2 linked regions of the Homo sapiens genome follow. The protein of the gene in region 1 purifies or fractionates together with the protein of each later gene. This does not show direct contact. Each region holds a gene or a part of one and is shown on either strand. Other genes may lie near its edges.

Region 1 (3,500 bases):
GTGCATAAATTTATTTTTATGTCTGACTTGCTATTTAAAAATGTACAAACAAGCCAGGTGCCATGGCTCACGCCTGCAATCCCAACACTTTGGGAGGCTGAGGTAGGAGGATCACTTGAGGCCAGGAGTTTGAGACTAGCCTGGGCAACAAAGTGAGACCCCCATCCCTATAAAAAACTAAAAAATTTGCCGGGCAGGTGGCACACACCTCTGGTCCCAGCTACAAGGGAGGCTGAGGCAGGAGGATCCCTTGAGCCAGTAGGTCAAGGTTGCAGTGAGCCATGATCATGCCACTGCACTCTAGCCTGTGTAACAGAGTGAGATTCTGTCTAAAAAAAAAAAAAAAAAAAAAAAAAAAAAAAAATTACAAACAGCTGGCAAAATTTTTTTCAGATCTTCTGCTTTAATACTGACAATATTGAACTTCACCTGAGCTCTGTGATTCTGGAAAATAAGGATGGCCAAAAAATCTCCCCATCCTAGGTGGGTGCAATAGTGCAAGCCTGTAGTCCCAGCTACTAAGGGAGGCTGAGGTAGGAGGATCACTTGAGCCCAGGAGTTAGGAGTTGGAGTCTAGGCTGGGCAACATAGTGAGATCCCATCTCTAGAAACAAACAAACAAACAAAAATCTTCCCACAGTTTTATGTCCAGGAAATAATTTTTTATTTTGGAAGTGATGTGGAACCAACTTTTTCCACATCAGTTAGATAAGTTTTATGGATGGCTCCCTCATTTATCTGACAAAGCCAGACACAGACCCTCCAAATTCCCATTCTTTGTCTCATAAGTGATTAGCTGAACTGTTCACTGCCACTGACCAATCTGGACAATATATCTACTAACTTGACCAAACTTTAGTCAGGATTTAGCCCTCCCCATAGGCCCTAGAACCTTGACCTATTCTTGGGCTTAAGCAAGCATTGGTATGCTGAAGAACCTTCAGGAAAAGATGTTCCCTGATCCAATCAGCTATCTGATCAGATTATCCCAGCTCTTCATCTTACTTCCCCATAACCCAGTTTGTTCTACCCTTTGTATTCCTTGCTAACAAAGAAAACTTTTTCGCTTAATGTTTGAGATATAAATCTTATGACTTGAGCATTTTCCCTATTGCAATAGTCTTTTCAAAAAAAGTGTCTCCTTACCTAATTCCAGATTTGCTTTTTATTTGACAATACCAACCTTCAGTGCTTCCTGGAGCTTGCATAATTTACTTTCCAAAATGCAAAACTGTTGTTTTACACTGTAAAGTTCTCGGTGGCAGATACGAGATGGAAAGATGGTGTCTTTCAATACTTCTAAACTCTGAAATTAATAATAAACAATTCTGAGTCCTATGAGTAATATGATAAGGACAAGAAAACAGGAACCAGAAAGTGACTTGATGTATGTTTTTATAGAAGCAAAGGCAGACTTGACTCAATAATTTCATCTTATCTAAGTTTAGCTTGAGGGTTGGACTGACTTGAGCACATATGTATATAAACACCAAGTGTGTAGAAAAACTATAGCACTGAAAACAGGGATGTCACATCCATACCTGGGTTATGCAGTTCTGGCACCAGCTGTATATAGACCATACTCTATTTGTCCAAAGTTTTATTGCATCTCTGATGTTAGGAAAATTGAAGTTCCAGGATGATGTTAGCCAGCTTCTGCTTTGAGATATATCTATTGAAGAAATACCGACTCTGTAGGAAAAACAAAATGAAACAAATAAAAAACCCCTAAGTCAGAATAATAGCCTTGGCCTGGTGTGGTGGCTCATGCCTCTACTGCTAGCACTTTGGGAGGCTGAGGTGAGGAGATTGCTTGAGACCAGGAGTTCAAGACTAGCCTCGGCAACATGGCAAAACCCTGTCCCTGCCAAAAAAAAAAAAAAAAAAAAAAAAAACTTAATCAGGCATGGTGGTGTGCCAGAAGAGAGAAGAATATGCAAACCAGGTTTGAAGATGGGTTAAATCAGAGCTTTTCATTCCACAAAAGAGAACTTTTAATGGGGTCAGAACATTGATCTTCTAATATATGAAAGCCTGTTAACTAGGAGAGAGATAGCAAACTGTTTTGTCAGGACCCACCCAGCTCTGGCGGTTTAAAGCGTCATGAATGGAAATTTGAACTCCAGAAAAGCAGAGCTTCCTACCAATGGGACTTCCATAGCAATGGGATCTGCTTCCTCATTCAGTTTGGGCCTTTCCCATGAGCAAGAGACTCCTAGGAGAGCCACAGCCCATTAGGAAGCCATATGGGAACTCACTCACAGGTTCTTTGTTTATTTTTTTGAGACGGAGTTTTGCTCTTGTTGCCCAGGCTGGAGAGCAATGGTGCGATCTTGGCTCACGGCAACCTCCGCACCCCGAGTTCAAGTGATTCTCCAGTCCCCGCTCCTGAGTAGCTGGGATTACAGGCACCCGCCACCATGCCTGGCTAATTTTTTGTATTTTTAGTAGAGACGGGGTTTCACCATGTTGGCCAGGCTGGTCTCACACTCCTGACCTCAAGTGATCCACTTCCTTTGGCCTCCCAAAGTGCTGGGATTACAGGCGTGAGCCACTGAGCCCGGCCAGGAACTGACAGGTTTTTTGGATGGTCTCTGAATGTCATCCAACTCTTTTATTTTTTATCAAAAAAATTTTTTTTGACACAACGTCTTGCTGTGTTGCCTAGACTGGAGTGCGGTGGCAAGATCATAGCTCACTGCAGCTTCTAAGTCCTGGGCTCAAGCGATCTTCCTGTCGCATGAGTCTCCCAAGTAGTTGGAACAAGGTGCCAGCCACCACACCTGGCTAATTTGGTTTGGTTTTGTTTTTTTAGAGATGGGGTCATGCTATGTTGCCTACACTGGTCTTGAACTGCTGGCCTCAGGCAATCTTCCTCCCTTGGCCACCCAAAGTGCTGGGATTACAAACATGAGCCACTGTGCACAGCTGAGATTTTTCGACTTAGTCTTTTTGTACATGCGATATTTTATTCATAGAATCCATAAATGGTAGGGAAATTTCTGAGTTCAGAGCAATACATATGATACAAAACTTAATATATAGACTAGAGTTTCTTAGCCGAACTGGAGGGGCTGGCCTTAGGTAATCCATGGACTCCCTGAAACTGGGGACACCATTGGAAATATGAGTGAGCTCATGGGCAGTTTCCTATGATTTTCAGGCCTCAAAATGTCTCTTGGACTCAAAGATGCCTTACGGCAGAGGACACGTGTACCCCCAGTATAGAATCTCGGACAGTGAATGTCAGTAAACATTCGGCAGAAAAGCTCTGCCAAATTGAGTGCTCTGATGTGACTTTTTCATCAAGTCAATGTTCCTGGGATCTCTTGTATATGATAATCTCACACTTGTAAGGTTTCATAGTTTCTGCTTACCCTAGTTTTCTTTCCCACCCTCCCTCTCCCACCAGACTGGACTCTGAAATGGGCATGTACAGAGAAGAGGAGACCCCAAAATGCTTCAGGCTTTGAGTGGAGAAGACACAGCCTCTGCTGGGA
Region 2 (2,830 bases), on another chromosome or scaffold:
AGCCTTTTAGAACTGTAAGATTTTTTAAAACTGTTTGCATATAATGTTTGAAGGTGGGAATGGGACCAGAGAGGCGACAATTTTACCTGGAGAAACAACCTCCCGAAACCATTTAGTAAGTAAAGTGAATTCCATCACACCTACACCCATTCACTGTTTTTATTTTTTTTTTGAGACATGTTCTCACTCTGTTGCCCAGGCTGGAGTGAAGTGACACGAACTGGGCTCACTGCAATCTCTGCCTCCCAGGTTCAAGCGATTCTCATGCCTCAGCCTCCTGAGTAGCTGGAATTACAACTGTGCACCATCATGCCCAGCTAATTTTTGTATTTTAGTAGAGATGGGGTTTTGCCATGCTGGCTAGACTGGTCACTGTTTTTATTTTATAATTAATTTTAGCTAAAGCATATGGGTTCATTTACAAAAATAAGTTTGGTCTTTTATTATAAATACTTCTAGTTGTAAAAAATTCATTTTCACATTTGAATGTCCTTGAAAGTATCCAAAGGATTCATTCTCCTTCTGCATTCTGCTTCTCAGAAAGTACTTTTGGGTTAGATCTGTTCCGAATTCTTTTTCTTTTTCTTTTCTTTTCAGAAGCAGATGATTGTGTGTCCGGTGCCTTTTTCTTTTTCTTCAAACAACTAAGAGGATTGGGACCACTTATTTTCTTGCGCTTTTTTCTTCTACTCTGTTCAGTGTTTTTCACTAAACCCTGTTCCTCTTTGAGATGTTTGATACTTTCTTTCTCATGCACTGAGACAAGCTGACCTGACTCCACTGCTTTTACAAAGGCAATTGTTTTGGGAGAAGGTTTGTCCAAAACCATAGTGTTCTGAATAATAAACATGAGAGGAACTCCAGGCTTCTTTTTTACTTTCACAGACAAATTCTGATCCTATTTAAAAGAAAACAGAATTATTTAGTTCAAATGTCAATTAAGGTACCTTAAATAGGTTTTCAAGAACTGTATTAAAAATAAAAGAGATCACAGATTTTATTTTTCAAATGAGTAAGCCTCACTTATTCATTTGAGTAATGGGGGTATATTTCATGATAAAGGAAGAAAAACATAAAAACTGAGCACAGTGTTAGTAGCAGCTGTGTGAACCGGATTTATCGATACTCTAGAGCCACAAATTACAAACTAATGCAAAGGTAAATGTGTTAGGTGGGTTTCTCCTGTTTCCACTCTAAGATATTCTTTGGAAAGGGTCAAGAATGCTTAAAGAGGTTAAAGGAAAAGAAACTGGGTAGTAATTAGCTACTCAGATTCTAAATTCAGCTCTACCTCTGTGTAATTTTATAATTCTGATAATCAAATCTGTATGTATGTGAACTTAATATCACCCCCAAAAGTCTCTCTTCTCCTGCCTTCAAGAAGATGGGAATATTTTTCTTCAAAAGCCTGAAATATTTCATACTGTTGGTACAGTCTTAAGCAGTATGAACCATGACTTTGAGAAACAGTATGAAATACAGGAACATGAAAAAAATTAACAGAATACAGGCACTTTGCTCTACTTATCTTCCCTTCAAGAACCCTACAACAAATCATCACATCTCATGTCAACAATTTCTTGTTTTAAAAAAAGAAACTTCTGCCAGTGTCCAGCATGATGGCAAACACCTGTAATCCCAGGTACTCAGGAGCTGAGGTGGAAGGATCACTTTAGCCTAGGGGTTCGAGACCAGCCTAGGCAATATAGTGAGACCCTCAAGTCTCAAGAAACAAACAAAAAAAGCAAAACAAAGGAATCATTAAAAAAAACAAAACCCAACCTTCCACTACTAAAAAGAATATCAACATGCTTAAAGTTTTCCTCAAATTCTCAAATGACAATTGCTTTTACTGACTGCAAATTAACTTAGAAGCCTGTATTTTTAAAAGTCTAATCATTCTAACTTTTTTCTGATTATAAATAGCTCCATATGAAGTATAAATAGAAATGGTGAAAATTGCCTGTGGTTTTAAAAGTAGTATCACCTGTGTTGCCACAAAATAATGATGAGGATTTCCCTCTTCAACCATGGAAAGCAGACATTCTGATCCACTCACTGCATTCTTGAAATGAGGACAATTTCGAACTTGGCATTTTTGTGCAATCAGTTTTGCCCCATATAAGTCCTTTCCCAATGTTTCTAGCTCTTTTAACACACATCTGAAAAGAAAAATTATAGCAGATACATTTCACTTGTTTACATAAGGTGTAAAAAACAATAGTCGATTTTTTCTTAAAATAAAACTATGCTGTTACAATCTAAATTTGTCATCTGGTAACCATTTACTTTAAAAGATCACTTGAAAAATGCATTTACCAAGTAGGAAGAACAACAGTTAAAATTAACTGAGCACTTATTATGTTCCATGTAGTATGCAAATTGCTCTTTACATAAATTCTTGATTAATCTCAAAGTAACCCTATGAAGTTAGGTCGCTTACCTTGAAATTATCCTTATTTTAGAGCACCCCATTCTGAGATTTCAAGTAACATGCCAAAGTTCAAGTAACTAGCAAGTGGTACCGAGACTTGCAGTTTGACAACAGCTCCCTTGTCCCAACCATAGCGTAATAAGCTTCTGCTTCAAGTACAAATTGGTATACTTTCAAAACATTTTCAATTCAGAACAGTAAAACTTCTCACATCATCAAGTTGTTTTTAAAAAAACATTTAGTCATAAGAGTTCCTCAACCCTAGCCAGCATTTGCCAGATTCTTTCTTGCTTCATCTCCTTTATCATCTTTCTGTTTCAAGAAGATTTTGCTTGCTTTAGTCATTAGACTTGACCTCTATTTTGAGTACTGCCAGCCTGTGGATGTCCTGCTATC

Evidence for each region. The genes of interacting proteins can lie anywhere in the genome.
Region 2: the proteins of PRR11 (region 1) and UTP23 purify together in Homo sapiens (affinity purification with mass spectrometry; 3 studies listed by BioGRID and IntAct, with this or other methods). This does not show direct contact.

Annotation. Positions count from the first base shown.
Region 1 is NC_000017.11:59,183,246-59,186,745, reverse strand, and holds part of PRR11 (proline-rich protein 11), read right to left. Parts: intron 1,693-3,500; coding exon 1,542-1,692; intron 1,307-1,541; coding exon 1,184-1,306; intron 1-1,183. UniProt on the Homo sapiens protein: Plays a critical role in cell cycle progression.
Region 2 is NC_000008.11:116,769,524-116,772,353, reverse strand, and holds part of UTP23 (rRNA-processing protein UTP23 homolog), read right to left. Parts: intron 2,163-2,830; coding exon 1,988-2,162; intron 899-1,987; coding exon 512-898; 3' UTR 1-511. UniProt on the Homo sapiens protein: Involved in rRNA-processing and ribosome biogenesis.